Linked DNA regions of Homo sapiens: region 2 is linked to region 1. The links come from fine-mapping of genetic effects on gene expression. A gene starts in region 1. The other region holds a variant in brackets. All regions are shown on one strand. Distances are between the middles of the regions. Region 1 holds the start of DKC1 (dyskerin pseudouridine synthase 1). Region 2 holds the start of MPP1 (MAGUK p55 scaffold protein 1).

Region 1 (8,284 bases):
CCCTGAACCTGAGCAGGCTTGTGGCTGCTTCAACCATAGACTGCAACAAAAATGGCATGATGAGACTTCCAAGGCCGAGTCATAAAAGGTGATGCAGCTTTTTGCCTTTTTCACTCTAACCCTTGCTTTGGAGGTCCTGAGCCACCAAGTACAGACTCCAGCTAGTCTAAGGCTGCCACGCCATAAAGAGAGGCTGTGTGTAGTAGGTGCTCAAGTTCCAGTGGAACCCAGCCTTCCAGCCATCCTAGTATAGGCAACAGGCATGTTAGTGAAGAAGCTTCCAGAAGATTATAGCCTCCAGCCATCCTGTCACCCCTATCCATCAAGTCATCTCAGCCAAGACCTCAGACATTACAGAGCAAAGAGAAACCATTCTCACTGTGTCCTGTCTTGATTTCTCACCTGAAGAACCTGTCAGCACAATGAAATGGCTGTTTAATGGCACTAAGTTTGGGGATGGTTTGTTATGCAGCAGTAGAAACCTAAACTGTGGACATTAAACGACTGTGGATTACTGAAAGCATAATCAGGTGGTTATTTCAAGTGCTGCTACGGTTACAGGTGTGATCTATTTGCTAAAACAATTCCATACCTCTTCCAACATTCTGTAGGCAGCCGTTGATCTGGCCAATGATAAAATGGCCTGTTGAAGATTCTGCTGTGTTCCTAGTTGGGACACAACACTCTTGTGAGGATCTGGACCATACGCTGAACTAGAAACCATTAAATGGTGCAGTTTTTCTCATGGTCAGAATATAAGAGGTCTGGAAAACAGAGTTGAGGTGGGGAATGGCATATCTCACAGACATGCTGAATAATCTGCCTTCAGAATTTTTGCTTCTCAACCTCATGACTTTGTACCTGGCTGGTTTAGATTCTAGTACCCAAGAAAAACATGCTTCCACTTATGAGAATCGCTCCACTAACTTGCAAACAGAGCCACTTGGCCACTTCTGGCTCCTCATTGCCATTACCCAATCCTCCCCTCTCCAGCTGACTTCCAGTTACAACTCGTTGCCCAGAATTGTGCCGCATGGCCACCCTAACTGCAAGAGAGGCCAGTAAATGATGTGACAAAGGATCTGACTGGCTTAGAGCGACTGTGATGCTTGCCCTGCTGCTGGGCACAGTGCTGTCCTGGCCAAAACTGGGGCTCTGTTATGGAGAAAGAAGAGGAAAGGGATGTCTGTTAGGCAGCCAACTAACAGTGCTTACCACACATGACCTAGTGAAACGTTTTAGAAGCAGTATAACCCTACAGGACCTGAGGGCAGGAGAGCAGGCTGGGAACTAAAGAGCATCCATGCAGGGCATTGTTAGGGGCTTTTCTCTTAGAGTACAAAAAGATATTTAGAGCTATTGTTTCACATGCCTTTCTTTAAATGTGATTTTCAGTTTTTACCTCTGCCAACATCCACTAAAGTCTTATTTAATGGTATAACTTGGTGTGGTGTGGTGCTGTGAAGGTGAGAGATGAGACATAAACAATTTTGAGGCCTACCCTTAATGTTCACTCACCCCACTCTTTAAACCTGTTCTTTATTGAGTCCCACAGTCTATAATACCCTTCCAATAATAACAGTCTGTTTCTTGTACTTCCAAACAAAACATTTCTAAGTGGCACAAGATTTGGTACTAGAAGCAAAGTCTTCCATGAGTCTTGCATTCAGACAAATGCAAGAATTTTGTTTTGGTTACCTGGCTAGATGTGGTGAAAACAATGTGGTGAAAAATAATCTGGGATGGGAATCTAGTAGCTTACAGCATTTATTAGCAAAACACCTCCTTCAATCCTTGTACACTCTCACCTGAACTCTATCGTCCATTGCAGTTAAAGCTCTGGGATAGGCTTCTTGGTCCAGGCATCACCTCCACATGAACCTCTATTCCAGCGTCTATACCAAGAAATCAGCCTGATTTAAAATGATCTTCTCTCTTTTTGGGTCAAGAACCTTCACATATCATTTACATAAATATTACCTGTTTCCTGGTACATGTTTGCAAACTCCTACTACTGTTTTCATATGCAAGCTTTCTCCTGCTGCATGACTTAAATTGTTCAGTTGAGGCAATGTAGAGGTTAACTCTAGTTACAGGCCTGGAGACATTGGGGTGGGAGAGTAGGAGGGAAGTGCCTTTGCTTCCCTGCTAATTCCCTCATGAGACAGTAAGGGAACCTGCAATCAGATAAACGTGGGGGTTGTTTAACAATGGAGGCTCAGTAAGAGTTGGGGATTCTGGGGACTCCCAATTCTCCAATTTACTCCCATTTCAAATCCCAGTGTTCTATGCTTTTCTGATCGTGGCCCCAACCTTTACTAAGAGAACTGAGAAGGCTGCGAACTCACTGAGTTTTGTAATTTGGAAAGGTGATGGGTCAAAATTTTAAAGTTTGGTTTTTAGTTGTTTTATTCTTGTGCCTGTAAAAGATAAGTAATTCCTTAAGCATTGTTATAGAAATTCCCTCTGTGACCCAAACCAAAAATTCGAGGAATTTGGCTGTCATTTAGATGATCCCAAACCATCATGAGTGGCCATCCTATCCCACAATTCTTGAAATCCTGTGCAACCATCACCAAAATGTAATTTTAGAACCTTTTTTTATCACCTCAAAAAGAAACTCTGTGCCCATTAGCAGTCATTCCCCATGTTCCCCTAAATTCCTAGGCCAAGGCTACCACTAATCTGCTTTTTGTCTCTAGATTTGCCTAGTCTGGATATTTCCTATAAATGGAATCACACAAAATGTGGCCTTTGGTGAATGGCTTCTTTCACTCAGCATAATGCTTTCAATGTTGTATCCATGTTGTAGCATGGATCAGTACTTCATCCCTTTTTACGGCTCCATTGTATGAATAGACCACATTTTGTTTATCTATTCATCTGTTCATTTTGGTTGTTTCTACCTTTTGGCTATTGTGAACAGTTCTTCTATGAACATATGTGTACAACCATCTATCTAAAAATCCATTTTCGATTCTCTTGGGTCTATACCTAGGAGTAGAATTGGTGAGTCATATGGTAACTCTGTGTTTAACCTTTCAAGGAATTGCCAGACCATTTTCTAAAGTGGCTGCATCATTGTACTTGATGGTACTCATGGTTTGGTCAGACAACACCCAGTTTATCATGGGCAGGTCAGGTCTTAAGACCACATGTATCACAGTCATTCCGTTTCAGTAAATAATTACAGCAAGCCAGGAGCTTTTCCTCCTGGCAAATTATTATTTTTTGTGTGTGGAGGTCTTAGCTTTAAGTTTATTTCAAATTCCAGAGGGCTGAACTGTGAGTCTCTTATTAAAGCTTGGAAAAGGCTCTGTGTAGCATCCTAATGGGGTATGCCATCTCCAGAAAATGGCCCACTGAGTGTCATGCTTCTTTTTTAGCAAGCAGAGGGTTCCAAGTAAGGCAACTTGTCTTTCTCTTTGGAGGGACCGTCTCAACATGCCTCAGCCCACTGCATGCCCAGGAAGTTCACTGAGGTATCACCTCCCTGAATTTTCAAGGGGCTTCTCTCTCACCTTGTGGTGAAATATTTGCCACTTCCTATGCATCAGGTCCACTCAGCATGATGTCTTGGGGTACAGTGAGATGATCAAATCAGTTCCCAGGGACTCAATTATGATAATGTGCCAGAGGCTTCCTTTGTTCTTTCCTTCCATTATCACCCTCAGTCCTTGAGTCAGGAAGCCCCTCTGGGAATTTATCCAGCTACCAATTGTGTTTATTACAAGTATGGATTCAAGAACCGGGGAAAGAGCCACAGGGTGGCTGATAGTGAAAGGGACGTGGGCTGACTCCACTTCTGACCATTGGACCAAGTGGCATTCTACTTCCCCAGTGATTCACACGGGCTAGTGCAAGCCCCTGGTAAATGGCCACGGGTCCCACGAGAAGGGAGGAGGCAGGCTGAAAGTACACACTTGTAGCGTTACATGTGCCTGGCCTCACCTTTACAGGCTCACCTCACGGGCTCTGGCCTGTGGACTGACTAGATCTGGGAATTAGATGAGGCACCATGATTTTCCATTGTGGTGATTCAAGGCAGAATGCCTTTAGCCAGACCTAGAGTTACCGGGGTTATACAGATCATGATGGCTTACTACAGGACACTGTGATCAATTAGACACCACCAAAGATCCCTGGGGAGAAATCAGTTTGGTTCCAGCTTCCAGCCCTGCTGCCTATCATGATACCCAGGCTCATCCTGTTTCTATGAGATTTAGTGCCAGTGCTTTGTCTCTGCTGTTTGGCGTGAAGCCCGGTCGTAGAGTTCAAATTGAGGTGTGCTGTGAGCATAAACGCACACACCGGAAAGTCTTTGCGGGGACAAAAAAAAAAAACCAATGTAAAATACCCCATTCATACTGTTGTGTTTTGCCTATATGTGGAAATGATAATATTTCGGATACGCTGGGTTAAAAAAATTCATTATAAATCATTTTCACCTTTTTCTTTTTACTCTTCTTTCATGTTGCTGCTGGAAAATTTAAAAGTCAACATGTGGCACGCACACTACTCCTATTGGCCATCTGCTCTAGCTGGATGGGAACTGCAAGCAGCAAAGGCCTTTCAACCTCTCCGAGCTTCAACATGTTCACTTATGCATCAGGACTGATCCAACAGCAACCTGAAAGGGTCGGTGTGAGAAAGCAAAGAAAGAGGTACTGTTTACGGAGCGTTCAGCCGTGAGCCCAGGCGCAGGCGCGGAGCTAAACCCGGAGGTGAAGCAACTACAGCTGGGGCCACGCCCACAGACTCCGGGCTGTCGGGGCGGGCGGCACTCGCGCTTCCAGCCTGGGCCAACCAGGCTGCTTGAGGCTCGAAGCGCATGCGCGGTCTCGCCCTCCGTACTGGCCGAGCCAGCAAATCGCATTGCGCAGACGACCAGCGGGCGCCTCGGATTCCGCCCCCGGGATGGCCCCGCCTCCTCCCGCCCCGCGGCAAGGCACGCACAGGGCAGTGCGCGGGTGGGTGGGTCCTAGCAGCGCGGCCTGACGGGACCAAGGCGGCGGGAGTCTGCGGTCGTTCCCTCGGCTGTGGACCGGGCGGCACGCACGCGGTGCAGGGTAACATGGCGGATGCGGAAGGTAAGGGCTGCAGGCTTCCGGGCCGTGCTAACTCCGGGCGACTCGGGGAACGGGGGTGGGGGGATGGTATCGGGGCCCGCGCACGCCTCCCTCTGGTTCCCGCCGGCGTGTCGGCCTCTTCACCGCCCGGCCTTAAGCCGGCCTTGTCTCTCGGCCCTGGCTCCGTGGCAAGGGCGCGAGAGTGGGAGCCCCTCGCGGTGACTTGGCATGATGGGGCTCGGCCCTCTCACCTCCCTGGGGTCCGGGTCGCCGTCGAAAGACATCTGCCGTGCTGCCCACCCCGCGGTGGCGTGGGACGTGGCAGTGTCTGTGCTGCTGCCAGCCCGGACGCCGCCGTTACAGCTCCATGCGACTAGGGGAGCAAGGGTAGTGGAAACGGGCCGAGAAGAAAAGGAGCGGAGGGACCCCGGAGCAGGGATAGAGCTCCGAGTTGCAAGAAAGTTCTAGAGGCCACAAGCCCGCGGGGACAGTCGAGTGGTCGCTTATGGAACTTTCCGGCCCCCTGCGTGAGCGCTTCTGTGGGATGTTTAAGCTCTGCCATAGCCACGTGGTGAACCGGAAGGGAAGCCGACACGTGCAGTAGCCTACAGTCAGTTACCCAGCCATGGGACCCATACATTTGGCCTTACACACCTTGTTTTCTCGCTTACCTACGGATATACGTTCTAAGAAATGGGTCGTTAGGCGATTTCATCATTGTGTGAACATCAGAGGGCTCTTACACAAACCTAGGTGGCATAGGCTACTACACACCTAGGCTGTATATGGTGTAGCGTATGGCTCCTAGGCTTCAAACCTGGACAGCATGGTATTGTGCGGAATGCTGTAGGCAGTTGGGACACAGCGTCGAGAGTTTGTGTACTTAAACATGTCTAAGCAGAAAAAGGACAGTAAAAATATAGCACAGGGCCGGGCGCGGTGGCTCAGGCCTGTGATCCCAGCCCAGGCTGGCGGATCACCTGCGGTCAGGAGTTCAAGACCAGCCTGGCCAACATGGTGAAACCCCGTCTCTACTAAAAATACAAAAAATTTAGGTGGGCGTGGTGGTATACGCCTGTAATCCCAGCTACTCGGGAGGCTGAGGCAGGAGAATTGCTTGAACCTGGAGAAGGAGGTTGCAGTGAGCCGAGTTTCTGCCACTGCACTCCAGCCTGGGGAAAGAGTGTGACCGTCTCAAAAAAAAAAAATTATATATATATATAAATATGTGTGTGTATATATGTATATTATATATGTATGTATTATATGTATGTATATTATATATATATAGTACACAAGGTTATAAGTGGTGCACCCGTAGAGGAGGGCACTTACCATGAATGGAGCTTGCTGAGCTGGAAGTTGCCCTGGTTGAGTCGGTGACTGAATGTGAAGGCCTCAGACATTACACTACTGGAGACTTTATAATCTGTACACCTAGGCTACACTAAATTTATAAAAATATATTTTTCTTCAGAATAAATCAACCTTAGCTTACTGTAACTTTATAAACTTTTTACTTCGACTGTTGTAATAATACTTAGCTTAAAACAAACACATTATTTAGCTGTACGTAAATATTTTCTCTGCTTATCTCCTTATTTATAAGTTTTCTATTTTAAAATTTTTTAATTTTTTTCTTAAAAAATTTTTTTTTGTTAACTAAGACACAAACACAGCACACACAGTAGCCTTGACCTACACAGGGTCAGGATCATCAAGACATCACTAGGAGATAGGAATTTTTCAGCTCTGTTATAATCTTATGGGGGCCACCATCACATACGCAGTCTGTACTTGCAAAACATTATGTGGCATGTGACTGTAATTGTAGACCTAAAATCCATTTCCTACCTGCCCTAATTTCGGTCTTTATTTTAAACCCTTGTTTCATTTATTCTTGGGGAAAATTCCCAAATCCTGTGTTTGTTTTTTTAGTAATTATTTTGCCAAAGAAACATAAGAAGAAAAAGGAGCGGAAGTCATTGCCAGAAGAAGATGTAGCCGTGAGTAGTAATGTGTTTGACTTCACTTTGACTAAAAAGAAAGTTTACTTAAATAACAAACTAAAGGAAAGAAGTGTTTTTAAAGGTTTCCAAGGAATGGGCCAGCATTGGTAGTCATTGTGTAGATTCGAAAAAGCACTGAAATGACACAGCCCCAGACAGTCCAAGTGTCCTTCAGGCATAGCTTACTAAATGGTGCTGGCCTTACCAACTGCTGTCTCTGAATTTGTCTTCCTTATGCCACCCACAGACCCGCCATCCCCCTTTCTCTTTAAATGTTTGGACCCATCTTAGTGACATTTCACTTCCCCTCTGTACTCCTGGTTCATTTCTTCTCTCTCTTTCCCTTGGAGGTCCCAGTGAAAAGGCATAGGAAGCCTTGTTTTCTGTTTAAAAGGCATACATTTCCATGGCAGTAATGGAATTGTTCAAAATCGGGTGGGAAGTTTAATAGGTTATATTTCTGTCCTGTCGAAGGAAATACAACACGCTGAAGAATTTCTTATCAAACCTGAATCCAAAGTTGCTAAGTTGGACACGTCTCAGTGGCCCCTTTTGCTAAAGGTATGTGGTTAAAATCGTGCATCAGATGAATGCCTGCTTTTACGTTATTTCCAAGTGTTAAACAATTGATTGAGAATGCTTACTGCTGGCATCCTTGACTTTGGGAAGTGCCCACTGATACAGTTTAAAGCAGGATTCCTTAAGGTATCTGAAATGAGAACCAAGTTTTTAAAAAATTGGCAGTGCACTCAACACTGTTGTAGAACACATGTCCCCACAATGTTAAATTGCTGAGTTTGTCAACAGTTCTCAGTTTTTGTACTTAGTCCATCTTGCAGACCTATGCCAGTTTGTGGGCCACATAGTGGTACTGACTCTTTTTTTACATGTGCTCACGACATGGTATTTTGTTTTGTGTTGTGTCGTTGCTTTGTAGAATTTTGATAAGCTGAATGTAAGGACAACACACTATACACCTCTTGCATGTGGTTCAAATCCTCTGAAGAGAGAGATTGGGGACTATATCAGGTAAGTGTTGGGAGGAGGCACTGTGCAAACTTACTTTCTTTTGAAAATGCTTTCACATCAGCTATTCAGGAAGGCAGTGGCATGCCAGAATAGCTTTGTCTTGAATATATAACCTGTACCCGCAGTGAATTATTTTTCTTTTTAACTTTTCAGATTTGTTGTTTCACTGGAGCATTA
Region 2 (17,392 bases), 44 kb after region 1:
GCATCGCTCTCCAGGTGGCCCCAGCTCTCACATTCCTTACTGATGCCTCAGCCAGAAGCCAGTGTTGGCTACCGATCACCCTATATCTGGGGTGTTATTTTTCTCATACACGAGTGCTTTCACTCACTTGGTCCATGTAGGTTACACTAAAAGCACGTATACATGATGGAAAGGTACAGACCCATGAAAAGCTAAAATAATTTTGAAAAACAAGAGAGTAGGAAGACTCAGTCTGCACAGTTTCAAAACTTACTGTAGTATAGTCTCAGTAAAGACTATGTGGTATAGACATGCAGATCAAGGGAACAGGATAGGGAACCCAGAAACAGACCCACAGAGATATGCCCAGTTGATTTTTAACAAAGATGCAAAAGCAACTCAATGGTGCTGCAGCAATTGGAAACTCATCACCAAAAAGGGAAATGCTGACCTGAACCTTACCTTCTAAAATGGATATGGACTTACATGTAAAGTGCAAAACTAGAAAATATATTTGAAAAAAATAGAAGAAACTTGTCAGGATCTAGAGCTAGGCAAAAAGTTCCTATACATGACATCAAAAGCAGAATCCATTAAAGGAAAAATTGGTAAATTGGACCTCATCAAAATGAAAAACTCTTGTTCTGTGAAAGCCCACATGAAGATTGTGAAAATACAAGCTACAGACCGGGAGAAACATTTACAAACCACATATCCAATAAAAGACTGGTATATAGAATATAAAAAGAGAGTGCTCAATACTCAACAGTAAAAACGAACAATCTAATTAGAAAATGGGCAAAAAACATGAACAGATATTTCACCAAAGAGGATATATAAAGATGGCAAATGAGGATATAAAAAGATATTCAACATCATTAGCCATCAGGGAGAAATGCAAATTAAAACAACAATGATATATCACTACACATCTATCAGAATAGCTGAAATAAAAAAATAGTGACAATACTCATAACTGGTGAAGCTGAGGGAAAATTGGGCATCTCATACATTGCTGGTGGGAATGTAAGTGATATGGCTTCCATAGAAAATAGTTGAACACTTTATTAAAAAACCAAACACACAACTACCATAAAACCCAGGGATGACACTCCTGGATATTCACCTAGAGAAATGGAAATTTATGTTCACTCAAAAGCCTGTACATGAATGCTCATAACAGCTTTATTTATAACAGCCAAAATCTATAAAGAACCAAAATACAGGTGAACAGTTAAAGCGTGGTACATCCATACCATGGAACACTTCTCAGCAATTAAAACAAAAAACACTATTGATACTAAAACAACTTGGGATCCAGCTCAAAGGCATTATCCTGACTGAAAGAAAGCTAATCTATTTCAAAACATCACATACTATATGATTCCACTTATATAACATTCCTAAAATGACAAAATCATAGAGACATTGAACAGAGTAGTGACTGCAAGGAGTTGCGGGGATGGGGTAGGGAGGAAGACAAGTGTGACTATAAAGCGACAGCAGGAGAGAGGCCTTTGTGGGGATGGAACAGTTCTCTATCTTCATTGTGGTGGTGGCTAGAGGAATTTTATTTTATTTTATTTATTTTATTTTTTTGAGACAGACTTTCACTCTTATTGCCCAGGCTGGAGTGCAATGGCACGATCTCGGCTCACCACAACTTCCGCCTCCTGGATTCAAGCGATTCTCCTGCCTCAGCCTCCCGAGTAGCTGAGATTACAGGCATGCACCACCACGCCCGGCTAATTTTGTATTTTTTGTAGAGATGGGGTTTCTCCGCATTGGCCAGGCTGGTCTTGAACTCCCAACCTCAGGTGATCCGCCCGCCTCGGCCTCCCAAAGTGCTGGGATTACAGGTGTGAGCCACCATGCCTAGCTATGTCATATTCTTCTTATCCAGCTTTATTACAGTGATTGCTTTTTACATGTCAGCCTTTAAATTAAAGACTCAGCAAAGCTTACTAGAGGCAGAACCATTCCAGCTGGAAAAGTTCAAGAGTTGCCATCCCAAAGGTTGGTCTTTCAGATGTGCTTATCCAACAAGACGTTCCTCTTTACGATGACTAAGAGTCACTATCACGCTTACCCAGAAGTTGCAAATGATGACTAAGAAAAACGGAAACTTCCAACGTGGTAACTAAAGTACACACTTGCAACAGTAAGTTTTCCAAAAGCAAAGCACAATTTTCTCCACCGTGAACTTGTCCCTGAGCCACCCTGTCTTCATGAGACTCTCAGAAAGGGAGGGTCAGCTCTCTGTGACCTCATCTTACAGAACTCCTTCAACTAGTCCCCATGTCTCCTCATTACTGACACATCATAGGAGAAAAGATATGCAGACATATACTGTCAGTGACATGAGTAATGCTGAACAAATAATAAAGGTCAAAGGTACTAGATTCTATTTCTCAGAGTTCAGTTCACAACCTCCACATCATCCTCTCAAAGCAGCCACCATCATCTGTAGTGGATATAGGAGGCCACAGAGCTATGGCAGGCCTGCCCCTGACCAGTGACAAGGCAGGGCGGAAGTGGCTCTGTTAAGGATGACTGCTGGGATTCAGGAGGAGCCAGGGAATAAACACTCACCCAGGACTCCATGTCTGGCCTTTGTTCTGCAGCCTCTGGCCTTTAATCAGACAAAGTGCTGGAGTGGCAATGCCTGCCGCTCTGAAAGCCCCTTCAGAGGAAACATCTGCAGCAGGGTTCAAAGGGCAGAGGCAGTTGCTCAAAGGAAGCTGGAATTTAAAAAGAGATGAAAAACAAACTTGGCGGGGGGCGGGCGGTGGCGGGGGTGAATAGAGCAGGGGCAACTGAAGTTGGCTTTCTAATCCAAACAATTAGATTAAGTGACAGTGAACATAGGAAAGAACAAATATTTGCTCAGCCTACTGTTAGGCTCTTTGCCAACTGCTCCCACGTGGAGACTTAGAAAGCCAAGTCCAAGAAGGCGAGATGATGCCAGACAGCTGCCCAGCAAGCCCTGGCCCCAGGTGCTCGCAAATTCCCTCTCTTTGCATGGGCAGTATCCTATTCCACTTTGGGAAAAAACAAGAGAAACTGAGAAAGCCAAGGGTATTCTGAAGTATTAGAAAGAGATTAGCACTGTTTAACCACAAATGACAGGAACTAGGGAGAGAGGAAGGCCTAAGAGCCAGGATATTCTGGCAGGTACTGTCTTAAAATCATACATTAACCAGGTGCTTTGCTTCTCAGGTACTAAATCCATCTGGGAACACATACATCAACCTAAAGGCCAAGTCTCTAGAGATCCCTTCCCAACGAGCTTTTTCTACCCCATGCTCTCAGTACACATGCAAAGGCTTTTGCTTCCACTGGGGAAAAAAAACAACAGGAAACTCAAGTAGCACCGTTCCACACAGCAGAAACACAGGGCTGCAGATACCTGGCACTGAGTCCCCACACTGCCATTAAACCAGTGCCGGAGCTGTGTGCAAATAACAACACTCGTTAAATCAAATGCTCATCCCCATTCTGTGGTCAATATTTGAAGACATGAAATGGTTCAGAAACCTGTCTGAGCTTAAAGGATGAGTAAGCCTCAGACTCCAGAAGTTAAACTATAAGCATGGACTTTGGAGTTTGTGCAGGTACATGGAGAGAATGCAGGTGCTGTGTCCCTCACATAAAGGCTGCCTCTGCACTGTGCAGAATATTCAGAGATGATGGCAGGTGCTAAGGAGGAAAATAAAGCAGAAAAGGCCTCGCAAGGAAGATAACTTTTGAGGGAAAACCTATTATGTGTTTTGTTCATGTATATTTCTTCATATGAAAGAAAAAAAGAAAAGCAAGACTATGTTACGAAAGTTCCTCTTCCCCTCCTCTGGCGTCACTTCCCCTACCCCAGCCAATTTTGGAAATATGGCTATTTAGTCTTGCCTTTCTACACTCCACACCCAGAGTTCTTTTTTAGCAACACTGAAAGGTTAGAGACAACTCACTGCTTAGGAGAAAAATCTCTGCATCAACTAATTTTGTCTCCCCTCTTGACACTGTCTCAGGACATTATTGATTGTCACAACTTAGCGGCGAGGTATTACTTTTTACAACAGAATTATCAGACCCAAAGTGTTAACAGTGCCCAGGTTGGCAAACTCCAATTTAAGGGAATTGATCTTAACCTGAAATATCTGTTCCTGGTATTCTATTATACTTCAGTGTCTTGTGTAGGGAGAACAAATGAGTTAGAAAAGAATAGAACGTTCATGATGAAACTCAAATCTGCTTAGCCACAATAAAAGCAGATTCTTATCTGCAAGGTATCCTAAGCCCTTCCAGTTTTGAAAAAAAAGTCATGAAAGGCCCAGGGCGCTGGATCATACCTGTAATCCCAGCACTTTGGGAGGCCGAGGCAGGCGGATCACCTGAGATCAGGAGTTCGAGACCAGCCCGGCCAACATGGCGAAAACCTGTCTCTATCAAAAATACAAAAATTAGCCAGGCGTGTTGGCAGGCGCCTGTAATCCCAGCTAGCTGGGAGACTGAGGCAGGAGAATCGCTTGAACCTAGGAGGCAGAGGTTGCAGTGAGCCAAGACCACACCCCTACACTCCAGCCTGGGTGACAGAGCAAAACTCTGTCTCAAAAAAAAAAAAAAAAAAAAAAAAAAAACAAAAAACAGAAAAAAGTCATGAAGTTCCTGGAAGTGAAGGACAGGAAAGGCAGACTGGCTGAGACCACACCACATACTGGGGAAATTGGGCAGAGGACTAAATAATTTGAAAATTACACTTTACTTTCTAGTATCAGTTCTGTGAAAAGAAAAGCCTTGAACGGAACCATTTCCTTTGCAAAGGAAACAGCAAGATCCAAGTCTGCAGCGAAAGTTCTTTCTCAGGTGAAATTATAACTAGTCAGAAGCAGAGTCAGTGATCATGCACACCGTAGACTCAACCTCCTGCCATCGCAGAAGGTGCCGCACTCGGCATGCACCTTGGTGTCCGTGCACAGGCTGTTCCCTCTGCCCAGGTACCACCTGCCAGTTACAGCCTAGGTACTGCGAAATGCAAGAGCCCACTGTGCTGGGTGCCCCTCCTTGCTCCACAGCGCTCCACAGCTGCTTCTATCACATCACCACCACACTACTGTATTTGTTTCCATGTCTGCGTCCTTCCTTATTTGCCTCTTAGTTCCAGCAGCAGACCTGGAGTAGGCAACAAACAACACTGCGTCACACTCAGTGACCACCAGCGGGGAGTAATGCTGCATGTGATGGCCTAAGAACCAAGAAACAGGTTTTCTTGGTGGAAATTTGCCTGGAGCCTGACTTATCTGTTAGGTGATTTTTTTTTGATGTGGGATAGGCCCAAGAGAATTTTCAGGGATTCTCAACCAATTGCTTCAGGTCCTGGGGAAAGTGTTGCTTCAAACAGGCCCGAAGAGAAAAGCAGTATTGGGAATTTTACAACTACTTTTATGTGCATTAATGGATACTGCTGTGAAGAACAAGGCCAGAGAGAGCTAATAAAATTAGTTTCTCCATTAACCTGCCTAGACCACATTGAAAAGAAAAAAAAAATTAGTTTATCCAAGGAAGGAGATATACTTAAATAGGGGAGATAGGCTACATTCAAACCTATTGCAAAATTACCTTTAGACAATATTCTTTCAGTATTAAATGTGGATTATAATTGGAAGTGAAACTTTGTTTTGAATCGGTAGCCTTTTTCCATAAAGTGACACCTTTAAATGAAACTTTCAGCAAAATAATTTTATAATTTCTATTGAAGCCAACAACTTCCTCACAGGTTTTCCTGCTTCAAATCTTGCCATTATAGGAAAACTTTCTGACTGCTACTACTGGGCAGGCAGCTCCTAGGGAGATACTGGGTCATTACCCTGGATGTCCCAGTGTGGCTCAAGGTCCTTGTCAAGCATTATCTCATGTAAATGTTGCCACAACCTTCCAAACTTGCCAGTTTCATAAAGGAGAGAAACCTAAGGCACAGAGAGCTTCAGCAGCTTGCCCAAAACCATGCAGCAAGTGAAAGGCAGAGCTTGCTGCTGCAGCAAAGACTGGTAAGAGCCCCAAAGGGAAGGTGAACCTAAAGAAATAAGAATCCGCAGGTTGTGGAGTCAAGCCACACTTCATCGTGTGAAGAGTCTCCCTCAGATGCTCACTTTGGCACAGCTGGATACTATTTCATTCAGGGATTCAGTAAGTTTTCTTATTTGATCTTCTTCAAATCCGTTAGTAAAAACCAAACAAATTAGCTAACTGGTAGACTATCTCCAATATTACAGTATAAACTCACAGCCCCACAAAACGTGCTGTTTACTCAGAGGTTGTGCCCACAACATAACACTGGTGGTGACAGGGCCTCTTTTCAAAAAGGCACAGTCTTTCAAGCATGCCCATAAGGGAACACATAGGTTTACATAAGAACCCCGACACAAAATACATCATACTGTAGGATTCTATTTATATAAAATTCCAGAAAAGGCAAATCTATAGTGACAGATCAGTGGTTGCCATGTTCCAGGTGGAGGAAGGTGACTGACTGCCAAGGGTCACAGGGGAACTTCCTGGAACCTTGAAAATGTTTATTCTTTGTCATGATTGTGGTTGTCGTTACATGACTATATACATCTGTCAAATGTCATCAAACTACACAATTAAATTTCATGAATTCTACTGTATGCTAAGTGTACCTCAATAAGACTTCCAGAAATAAATAGATTTTTTAAAAATAGTTGAGGCTCAGCCAAGTGAGTACTGATTGTGGGGAAGAAAAAAATCACAAGTCCAAGTTTATGGGGAATCAGGTAACAGAACTTGTAATTTTGTCTCATCATCTGTATAACAATAGCATCTTTCATGCCTGTATTATTTCTGCACTCATTTAAACTCAGGCTGTTGCAATCCTGATTTGAAATGACAGGCAGGTGTGAATGCCTCACTCGAGTGGAATATAAAGGGTAAGGCAATGCGGTGCAGCAGACACAAAATCTAGCCTCAGTTCTGATGCCCATTACTTGTTTCCTTGAGTTAATGCCACTTAGCCCAAAGAGTCTACAGCTCTACTGCTTGCCTTATGTTGCAGGGACCTTCAGTTTTTTCATCTGTGAAATCGGAGGGTTACTGTAAATCCCAAATGTCCATCTCTTCAGTCATTTATTAATTTAGCAAACATTTCTGAGGACCCACTTATTGGGCACTTAAAGAAGTGAGTATGACACGGCCCTGCCCTAGAAGACCTTGCAGTCTAGGAAGGAGGTTCATGCTGTGACTTCTGAGCTTCTGCCTGGCTCTCTGGTTCTCTCTGGACATTTTCCCCTTGGG[A/T]CCTGGCCAGCATGCTGTGAGGAAGACCAAGCCACAGGGAGAGGCTGCTGGTTGATTTTCTGGCTCATGGCTCATGGCTCCAAATGAGTAAGTGAGCCGTGTCCCCACCTGACAGACCCTGAGTGACGACCACCTTGCTGGGCCCAATCAAAACGAAATATGAGAGACAAGAAAATGCTCAGTGTTGTAAACCAGCGAGTTTGGGAGAGATTTGCCAGTAACAGATAAGCACAACCTACCCTTAGGGCATCTTTGAGGACGGAGGTTAATAGCTATTTACCAGCCATCCATCCCTGGAATCTGGATTCCTTGTTCCACCCGCAAATATACACTGGCCACCCTCTTTGCACCATAGCACAAGGGGACCTGCCTAAATGAAGAGGAACAGTGAGTGAGCTCTTTAGAACCAGAAGCTGGCTTTTACAATCATTTCTGCTGACCCAAACACAAGCACTTCAACAACAACCAGGCAGACCTACTCCTTGATGTGTTCCTTAAAGACTTTCTGTTACTCTGACTTCCGTCCACGAGGAAGTTTTCCTTGCCCTTAATAAGCGCACTGTCCAGGCCGCTGCCTCTCCTGATTTCCAACTGGAAGGACTGCTGGGGGCAAGGATCCACTGCACCAGCAGCCCGGTACGAACCCGGCCGCGCGCTGGCCTTGTCCTCACCCCGCCGGCTATCGCGGTCTCCGACCTATGGCCAGGACCCGCAAGGACAGGCCCCCCGGGGACAGGGACCGGGACAGGGAAAGTCCCGAGATGAATGGCCGAGCCCCGGCCCAGCGCCCTTGGGACTAGCGGGGCCCGCTCACCTCTGGCCGACTACGCTTCTGCAGCAAATGCTCCAGGTAGAGGTCGGAGAGCGCCGTGTGCATGCTGCCCCCACTCTCGCCCTCGCTCGCCTTGAGGGTCATCTCGCAGAAGCTGGAACACTGGAACGCAAGACAGGGCAGCGCTGGGAATGACAGGGCCCGGGGCCTGCGGGGCTGCGGAGAAGGCGGGAGACGCGGTGCGGCTGGGCCAGTCACCGCCCCGCAGGCGGTGCGCCGGGAGGGCGCGGACGGAGCTCCGCCTACGGCCCGCCCACTCCTGCCCTCGCTCCGCCCATGGAAGTCTCCCACGCCCCGGACTCCGCGGCTCCCTGCGCTCCGAGAAGCGGCCCTTAAAGGGCCTGAGGAAGTCGTAGCTGTAGGTGGCCGCGTGAGATGAATGCCAGAAAGATAAGAAAGGGGAGGGGGCCCCCAGCTTCTGGGTGGTTGAGCACACGGCCCACGCCCCGTTGGGCCTGAGCCGCCCGGGTGCCCTGGCCAAATTCGTGGGGATTGCAGGGAGGCAACAAGGGAAATCAGAATCGGCCGGCTTAGTGGAGTTCAAAAGATGTAGGTGAACTCTAGACTCTTCCCATAAATTGATGCGGGCGCAGCATTACCCTTTGAGATCTGGACATTGCGAAAATGCCTTTAAGGCTGCTGTGCTGCTGCACCCTGTCATTTAATTGTTGTGTGCTGTTTGATGATGAAACATCTTATTGCCTTCAAAACCAAACTGTTTTTACTTAGGGCAGATCTCCTGCTGTAAATGCCACAAAATTTTTCCGGCTCAGCGAAAGCAAAGGCAGCAAACATTCCTTAGTAACCCTAGAGGAGGATTCCTTAGCATCCTAACGCATTGGAGACATTCAAACACCAGTCACAGCGATGGAAGGCTTTCTGAACAAAACAAACATTTAATGGGCTTGTACGGCTCTTGGTCCCCTACCCCAAGCTAGTAGCCTCACAGTATTAGAAGCAGTTCATCACTACATGTAATCTTATTCTGACCTTCCTCAAAGCTTCCTGGGAAGGAGGAGCTCATAGCCAAGAGGAGAAAATCCAAGGGCAACAGTTTAGAGCTGCATTGCCCAGTTTTCTCTACCAAGAGGCCGAACTCATGTGAATGACGGTTCCCTTCCTCAAGATCACTCTAAACGAACGGGGGGGGAGGGGGGGGTGGGGTGGGGGGGGAGAGATTGAAATTAAGACTGTGATATTGAGGCATGGATAGATTAATTGAGCAATGGCATAGAATAGAGAACCCCGAAACGCAACCATGCAAGTATAGAAATGTGGTATATGATAGAAGTGGCATGTTAGGTAAGTAAACAGGGACATTTTATTAACTGACGCTGGAAAATGGTTATTTATATTGGAAAAGATGAAATTGGAATCCTCATTCATGTGATATGGAAAATAATAATAATCTATTCCAGATGGATTAAGGAATTAAATGTCAAAAACATACCCTTAAAGCTCTTGACAGGAAACATAGGCAAGGAACTTTTAGACTTTGGGATACAGATTTCTAAACAATGTAGACAAACCATTGACCATAGAATGGAATAGTGGTAACTTTGACTTTAAGAATTTTAATTTATGAAGACACCATAAAGAGCAAAAAACACAGCTGTGCATTGGGAGAAAATATTTTCAATACAGATAAGTGGCAAGGAATTCCAATTGCGAATATATAAAGGACTACAAATTATTAAGAAAAACACAATCCAGTAAAGAAGTGGGCAAAACACATGAATAGGCATTTCACCAACAGAGAGACGCATATGGCCAATAAACATACATATAAAGAGATGTTCGACATCATTAGTGATCAGGAAAATGCAAAGCAAAACTACAATGAAATACCACTGTTCACCCATTCAGTTGTCAAAAATTTAAAAGTCTAACAGTACCAAGTGTTGGGGAGGATGTGAATCCATATGATTTATTGAATATTGCTGGTGGGAGTCTAAATTGGTACCAGTTGTAAGGAAAACGGGTTTCCATTATCTCTTACAGTTGAACATACATCTACCCTCTGAGCCAGCAATTCTGCTCCTAGAGGGAACAACTATTCCCAGTTTGGTCTGTAACCTTCCAGGTCTCCCTCTGTGCATCTGCAAAATATTCAGGACTAGAGTTGCCTTGTTTGTCCAGGTACGAAAACCATAGTATGGATGGCCTTGCTCCAATTTATACTCCTTCCATATTTTCTCAGCCTTATCTACTTCCCAGGCGATCAGGCACTTGATCAATGGAAATCCCTGACTGCCACTGACGTTTTCACATCTCCTGACACTTCTGACTCCTTCACTTTTCTAAAGTGAGGGCTAGGTTCTGAAATGACCTCTACTGCACTCACTGCAGCAGGAGCTTCTGCACTCAAGCTCATCCTGACCAGATCCATGGAGGCTCTGATGACTCCTACCACTTTTGGATTCAGGATTGAACTGTGGTGTGTGGGATCTGGCTTTCCTACTGACTACCAGGACCAAGGTAACACAACTCAGAGGTGTGAGGAAACTAACAAACACCTAATAGGGTGAACTTTGACCACTGACAGAAATGAGACAAACACCCGTAGGCAGATCAATTCCTTTCCTCAACCATTTCAAGATGGTGTGATTCTATACAACTCTTCTGGAAGCATTCAGGAAGACTGTGAGATAAGCTGTGTTTTCTTGAGTAACAGTGGCGAACTCAGTAGCACACCAAAGTATATTTTGTTTCCATCCTTCCCTACCTCACTTCATTTATTCCCTCACTCTTACACCCATGGGATTGCATCCTTCACTAAAGATTTACCACATATGTTTTGCTCCAGGCTTTGCTTTCTACCAAACATAGGCTAAGAAAACAGGTGTCAGAAATGGGGTGGCCTCAGAAAACAGACCCTCAGGATAGGACTTTTGCTATACAAATACATGGACATTAAATAATCTGCTCTTGAATGGTATTTGGGTCAACAATGAAATCAAGATGGAAATCAAAAATTTCTTTGAGCTGAATGATAATAGTGACACAACTTATCAAAACTTCTGGGATACAGCAAAAGTGGTGCTAAGAGGAAGATTCATAGCATTAAATGCCCATATCAAAAAGTCTAAAACAGCACAAATAGACAATCTAAGGTCACATTACCCGACTTCAAACTATACTACAAGGCCGTAGTTACCAAAACAGCGTGGTACTGGTATAAAAATAGGCATGTAGACCAATGGAACAAAATACAGAACACAGAAATAAAGCCAAATACAAACAACTGATCTTTGACATAACAAACAAAAACATAAAATGGGGAAAGGACACCCTGTTCAACGAATGGTGCTGGGAAAATTGGCACGCCACATGTAGATAATTGAAACTGGATCCTCATCCCTCGCCTTGTACAAAAATCAACTCCAGATGGATCTAAGATTTAAATCTAACACCTGAAACCATAAAAATTCTAGGAGATAACACTGGCAAAGCTATTCTAGACATTGGCTTAGGCAAAGAGTTCGTGACCAAGAACCCAAAAGCAAATGCAACAAAAACAAAAATAAATAGGTGGGACCTGATTAAACTGAAAAGCCTCTGCACAGCAAAAGAAATAATCAGCAGAGTAAACAGACAACCCACAGAATGAGAGAAAATATTTGCAAACCATGCATCTGATGACAAAGGACTAATATCCAGAATCTACAAGGAACTCAAACAAATCAGCAAGAAAAAAATAACCCCATCAAAAAGTGGGCAAAGGAATGAATAGACAATTCTCAAAATATACAAATGGCCAATAAACATACGAAAAACTGTTCAACATCACTAATTATCAGGGAAATGCAAATTAAAACCACAATGAGATGCCACCTTACTCCTGCAAGAATGGCCATAATAAAAAAAAATCAAAAAAGAATAAATGTTGGTGTGAATGTGGTGAAAAGAGAACACTTTGACACTGCTGGTGGGAATGGAAACTAGTACAACCACTGTGGAAAACAGTACCGAGATTTCTTAAAGAACTACAAGTAGAACTACCATTTGATCCAGCAATCCCACTACTGGGTATCTACCCAGAGGAAAAGAAGTCATTATTTGAAAAAGACACTTGTACATACATGTTTATAGCAGCACAATTTGCAATTGCAAAGATATGGAACCAGTCTAAATGCCCATCAACCAACAAATGGATAAAGAAAATATGGTATATATACACCATGGAACACTACTCAGCCATAAAAAGGAACAAAATAATGGCAACTCACAGATGGAGTTGGAGACCACTATTCTAAGTGAAATAACTCAGGAATGGAAAACCAAATATTGTATGTTCTCACTTATAAGTGGGAGCTAAGCTATGAGGACAAAAGGCATAAGAATTATACTATGGACTTTGGGGACTCGGGGGAAAGGGTGGGAGGGGGATGAGGGACAAAAGACTACACATTGGGTGCAGTGTACACTGCTGAGGTGATGGGTGCACCAAAATCTCAGAAATTACCACTAAAGAACTTATCCATGTAACTAAAAACCACCTCTACCCAAATAATTTTGAAATAAAAAATAAAAATATTTTAAAAAGAACTCTTTAAAATAAATAATGAAAAGCACCAACAGACTTATGAACAGGCAATAGAAAAAATGAGAAATAGAAAGGAATACAAATAAAAGTACAGAAAAAAAATATGGCAAGTTATTCAACCAAACTGGTAATTTGAAATCCAGATTGAAATAATGCAAAAAAAAGGCAATTTCTGGCACCATGGCAGACCAGGTACCTGGATGATCTGTTGCTGAAAACAACTGAAAATGCTGGTTAAAATATATTAACACATTCTTGAATACAGTCATGGCCAAAGGAAGTCACATGACTAAGCCCACAGTCAAGGAGTGAGAAAGTATTCTCTACCTACCATGAGGCCAGGGCAAGGGTGTGCACTTTTTTTTTTCTTCTGTTCATTGAATACAGTCACTGTGTATTTTACATACTTTCATTTAGTCTTATGACAATCCTATGAAACAAGTACTTTTAAAAAAATTGAGATAACAGTTGCATACCGTGAAATTCATCCATTTAAAGTGAGCAATTCACAGGTGCAGCTAGCTCAGTCAGCAGAGCATAAGACTCTTAAAGTGAACAATTCAGTGCTTTTTAGTATATTCACAGAGTTGTGCAACCATCACCACTATCTAATTGGTCTTAGTCTGTTTGGGCTGCCATAACAAAATACCACAAACTGGATAGCTCATAAACAACAGGCATTTATTGCTCACAGTTCTAGAGGCTGGAAGTGCAAGATTAAGATGCCAGCAGATTCTGTGTCTGCTGAGGGCCTGTTCCTCATAGAAGGTGCCCTCTTGCTGAATTCTCACATGGTGGAAGGGGGAAAACAAGCTTGCATTGCAAAGAGGTGGGCCTCTTTAATCCCAAAGGCCCCACCTCTAAAAGGCCCCACTTCTGAATACCATTACATTGAGAATTAAGTTTCAACATAGGAATTTGGGGGAACACAAATATCCAGACTGTAGCATAATTCCAGAACGGATTCATCACCCACGGGGACCCCAGCCCCATGAGTAGTCACTCCCCATTCCTAGTCCCTGGCAACCACTAATCTACTTTCTGTAGGACCACTAACTGAATCTACCACAAGGGACTAATAAAAACCCTGCCCTGAGAATTCATAAGTATAAGTTGGCCCTTGCTCTGGTTGGCAGCTCAAAGTTGCACTACCTGAGTGACCTGACAAACCTTAAGTAGATAATTTAACTTCAAGGGTTTTCTTGACTGATAGAGCCCCAAGGTGCCTGGCAGAGCAAAATATGTCTTTTTGAAGGAGTCCTCATTGATACCAGACCTTAAATTCCATACATATTTATAGACTGATAAATCGCTAAACAATCAAGGAAACAAAGTCCCGTGAGGGAGATCCAGCAGAAACGATAGGTGACCAAATTGAACCAAAAACTTCAGATACTGAAATTCAAGATTAGTTAACACTAGAAAATTTATTAATCCAATTTACCATATTCATGGAGAAACTCATATTATCTCAGTAGGTGGAAAATATTCAATGTAATTCAATATCCATTAATGATAAAATATCTTTTATCAAATCTAGGCATAGAAAGAACCATCTTTAGTCAGGCACGGTGGCTCATGCCTGTAATCCCAGCACTTTGGGAGGCCGAGGTGGGTGTATTGCCCGAGGTCAGGAGTTCGAGACAGCCTGGCCAACATAGCTAAAAACCATCTCTATGAAAAATACAAAAATTAGCTGGGCGAGGTGACAAGCACCTGTAGTCTCAGCTATTCGGGAGGCTGAGGCAAGAGAATCGCTTGAATCCAGGATGCAGAGGTTGAAGTGAGCTGAGATCATGCCACTGCACTTCAGCCTTCAGCCTGGGTGACAGTGAGATTCTGTCTCAAAACAAACAAACAAACAAAAAAAATCTTCCCTCTTTAACCGATTTTAAAAAACTATTTGTAAAACATCTAAAATACCTACAACGAATATAGTTTTAAAAAGCTGAATGTATTTCCTTTAACATGTTGAACAAGACAAAGATGCCTCCCTCTATAACCACTTTTCTCTGTGTCGTATTGTAAGTTCTATCCAGCAGAATAAGGCAAAAGTAAATTATCATGGTATAAAGACTGGGAAGGAAGAAACAAAATTGTTGTTATCTATGGATATATTATTGTCTTTGTAGAATATTTAAAAATCTACAGATAAATTATTAAAATTAATAAATGCTATTACTAAGGTTGTTAGCTACAGTCATACAAAGAAATCAATTGTATTTCTATACACCAAAGATACACAGAAAATTTAATTTTAAAAGACACCATTTTGTTATGACATCTAAAATGATCAAATACCTAGGAATAAGTTGAACCATATATAGGTACTGTATGGAGAGAATTATAAAATTCTATCTGCATACATTGAAGAAGAGCTAAAAATTGAAAGAGAAACATGTTCATGGTTTGGAAGGCTTAATTTTATTAAGATGTAGGTTCTCCTGAAATTGGCCTATAGATTCAATGCAATCCTGGTAAAAATCTCAACAGGTATGTTTTGTGAAACTTGACAATCTAATTTCAAAATATGTGTGGAGTTGTAAAGAGCAGGACTAGCTAAAGAAGAACAAAGTGGGGGACCTGTCTTGCAGATAGCAAGACCTTAATAAAGCTATGGTAATTAAGAGTGTGGTATAGGCACAGAAATAGACCAATGGACCAGAAGGGAGAGGCTAGAAACAGATTTGTGCATATTTAGACACTTGATAAGGTGACATGAGACATCAATCAATATATGTAAGATGTACATTGGTTTCATCCAGTAAGGTGGGACAACTGAAATAGAGGAGGAAGCTTCCAGATCGTGGGTAGATAAGAGACAAATGGTTGAATTCTTTTGAGTTTCTGATTAGCCTTTCACTGGATACACAATTTACAGGAATAGTCAATATGTCTTGGTCTGGCTCAGTGCAACAGTAGGGCAAAAGAAGTAATCAGGTATGCATTTGTGTCATGTGAGTAGAGGGATGACTTTGAGTCCTGCCTGCCACTTGTTTCACAAGGAATTTCCTTGTGGGCAAATTGTGAGGGAGGTATGTAGCTTACTTATTTATTTATTTATTTATTTATTTATTTATTTATTTATTAATCTTTATAGCTATCTTATTTAGGAATAGAATGGGAGGGAGATTTGCCCAATGCAGTTCCCTGCTTGACTTTTCCCTTTGGCTTAGTGATTTTGGGGAGATTTATTTTCCTTTCATATTCTCCCCTTTTCTTTTTAAAATCTTTCGGAGAAAGCACTTTAGAAGAAAATGAGCCTCTGGTCTCAGGTTTTGTCTGATCTGTCGTGGCTAGGATGCTTTATTCCTAGACAGATAGGTCCCACATTATTAGGAAAGCTCATTTTTAGCAGGTTGTGAAGTCTCATGTCCTACAAAGGGAAAATAGGGGTAGGAAGAGAGAAAAACAACAACAAACAAACAAAAACTGAGGAACAATCCTGGAAAATCAATATAGGCCATATTCCTCTGAAGTCCATACATCAGTAGGCAGGCATGAAATTGGTTTATGTGTAATATGTAAATTGGTTGCTGTTGTTTTCTTCTGAAGTTTAAGTTGTCTAGCTTTAGTTTACAGAGCTTTAAGAAAGCACAGCTTAATTTTTAAATTTCAAATCAGGAAAAATGGGAAAAAAGGAAAGAATAAAAAATTGAAAACGTTATTTTGGAGACTTGTAGCCAGAAAAAATTTTAGAATTCAGCCCAAACTGTAGAAAATAATAAAAATGGAAAAACGTTAGGGAAGACCAGAATCTAATAACAGGTGTACCATAGTTTATTTTGAAACATAATTTTTCTCTCTCCAGTTCCATTTTCAGTAAAGACAAATCATAGGACAAATTCATTTGCAAAATAAGTTTTAGTCTTATTATACTTGGCTGGAGTAGTCACATAAAGTCAGCAAGAATAATTATTTGCCATATAGGCTCCTCTTTTTTTTTAAAATTGGCTTTGCTGGAACTTTATTCCATAAGGAATCTCAGATTTGAATTTAATGTCTTAAGCCCAGCCTATGTCTGCAAATACCTATGTTAATTGGGTGAATTCCTTACCTCGAGGTTCCAAGAAAACTTGGGGATCCTGGGCCAGTCAGAAAGTGACATTTTTCACTTACCACAGGTCAGGAACCTGTATAGGGACTGCATAGACAAGGTATGAGGCATGTTTTCCCAAGGGGCTTTTATTGGCTCTATAATTCAACTTTGATTACTTGAAGGAATCTGTATTTGAAAGCATGTTATTCCAGTCAAAACCTTGGTAGAATAACCAGTGTCTCCAATTGTGTCCTGTTACCAAAGAAAGCAGATTCTTACTGTACTTGGGCAAATAACAATATTGCCACAAGTTGAGAATACTCACAACTACTTTCCAAATTTTGGAGAAATCAGGTAGAGAGAAATGTGCTCCAAATTTTGTTTATAGGAATATATTTTACTTAATTGTCAAAAGTTTCAAAAAGTTTCTTTGGCTCTGAAAAACAAACAAAAGATCAGCAATGTTTTAGGCAAAAAGTCATAAAAGGATTTATTTCAGTCTTCTATTAGTTTAGTCCATGCAGTTAACTCCTGTTCTGCTTGATATTCATGAACATTTCAGCTCTCTATGGGAGTCTTGGAAGTTTTTCCTCTAATCTAGTGTCACAATCTCCAAGGTTATCAGAAACCTGCAATCAAGAGCACCTGTCAGAGTCCTATGCTGATTATAAACCACCTTTTGAAAAGGATA

What was found. PIP is the estimated chance that this variant, and not a neighbour inherited with it, causes the effect. A credible set is the group of variants that fine-mapping cannot tell apart.
Region 2: its variant is the best candidate, but not a certain one, in a credible set for the expression of DKC1 in whole blood (TOPMed, PIP 0.72).

What each region holds. Positions count from the first base shown.
Region 1 is chrX:154,757,892-154,766,175 of GRCh38, forward strand. DKC1 (dyskerin pseudouridine synthase 1) reads left to right here and starts at 4,973. Exons shown (of 15, transcript NM_001363.5): 1 at 4,973-5,090; 2 at 7,008-7,075; 3 at 7,553-7,639; 4 at 8,016-8,107. The coding sequence starts at 5,075. RefSeq lists enhancers at 4,594-4,653, 5,404-5,503 and a silencer at 4,754-5,053.
Region 2 is chrX:154,797,174-154,814,565 of GRCh38, forward strand. It overlaps MPP1 (MAGUK p55 scaffold protein 1), which reads right to left and starts at 8,312. Exons shown (of 12, transcript NM_002436.4): 1 at 8,099-8,312. The coding sequence starts at 8,200. RefSeq lists a silencer at 8,277-8,436. The variant A/T (reference allele first, on the strand shown) is at 7,285.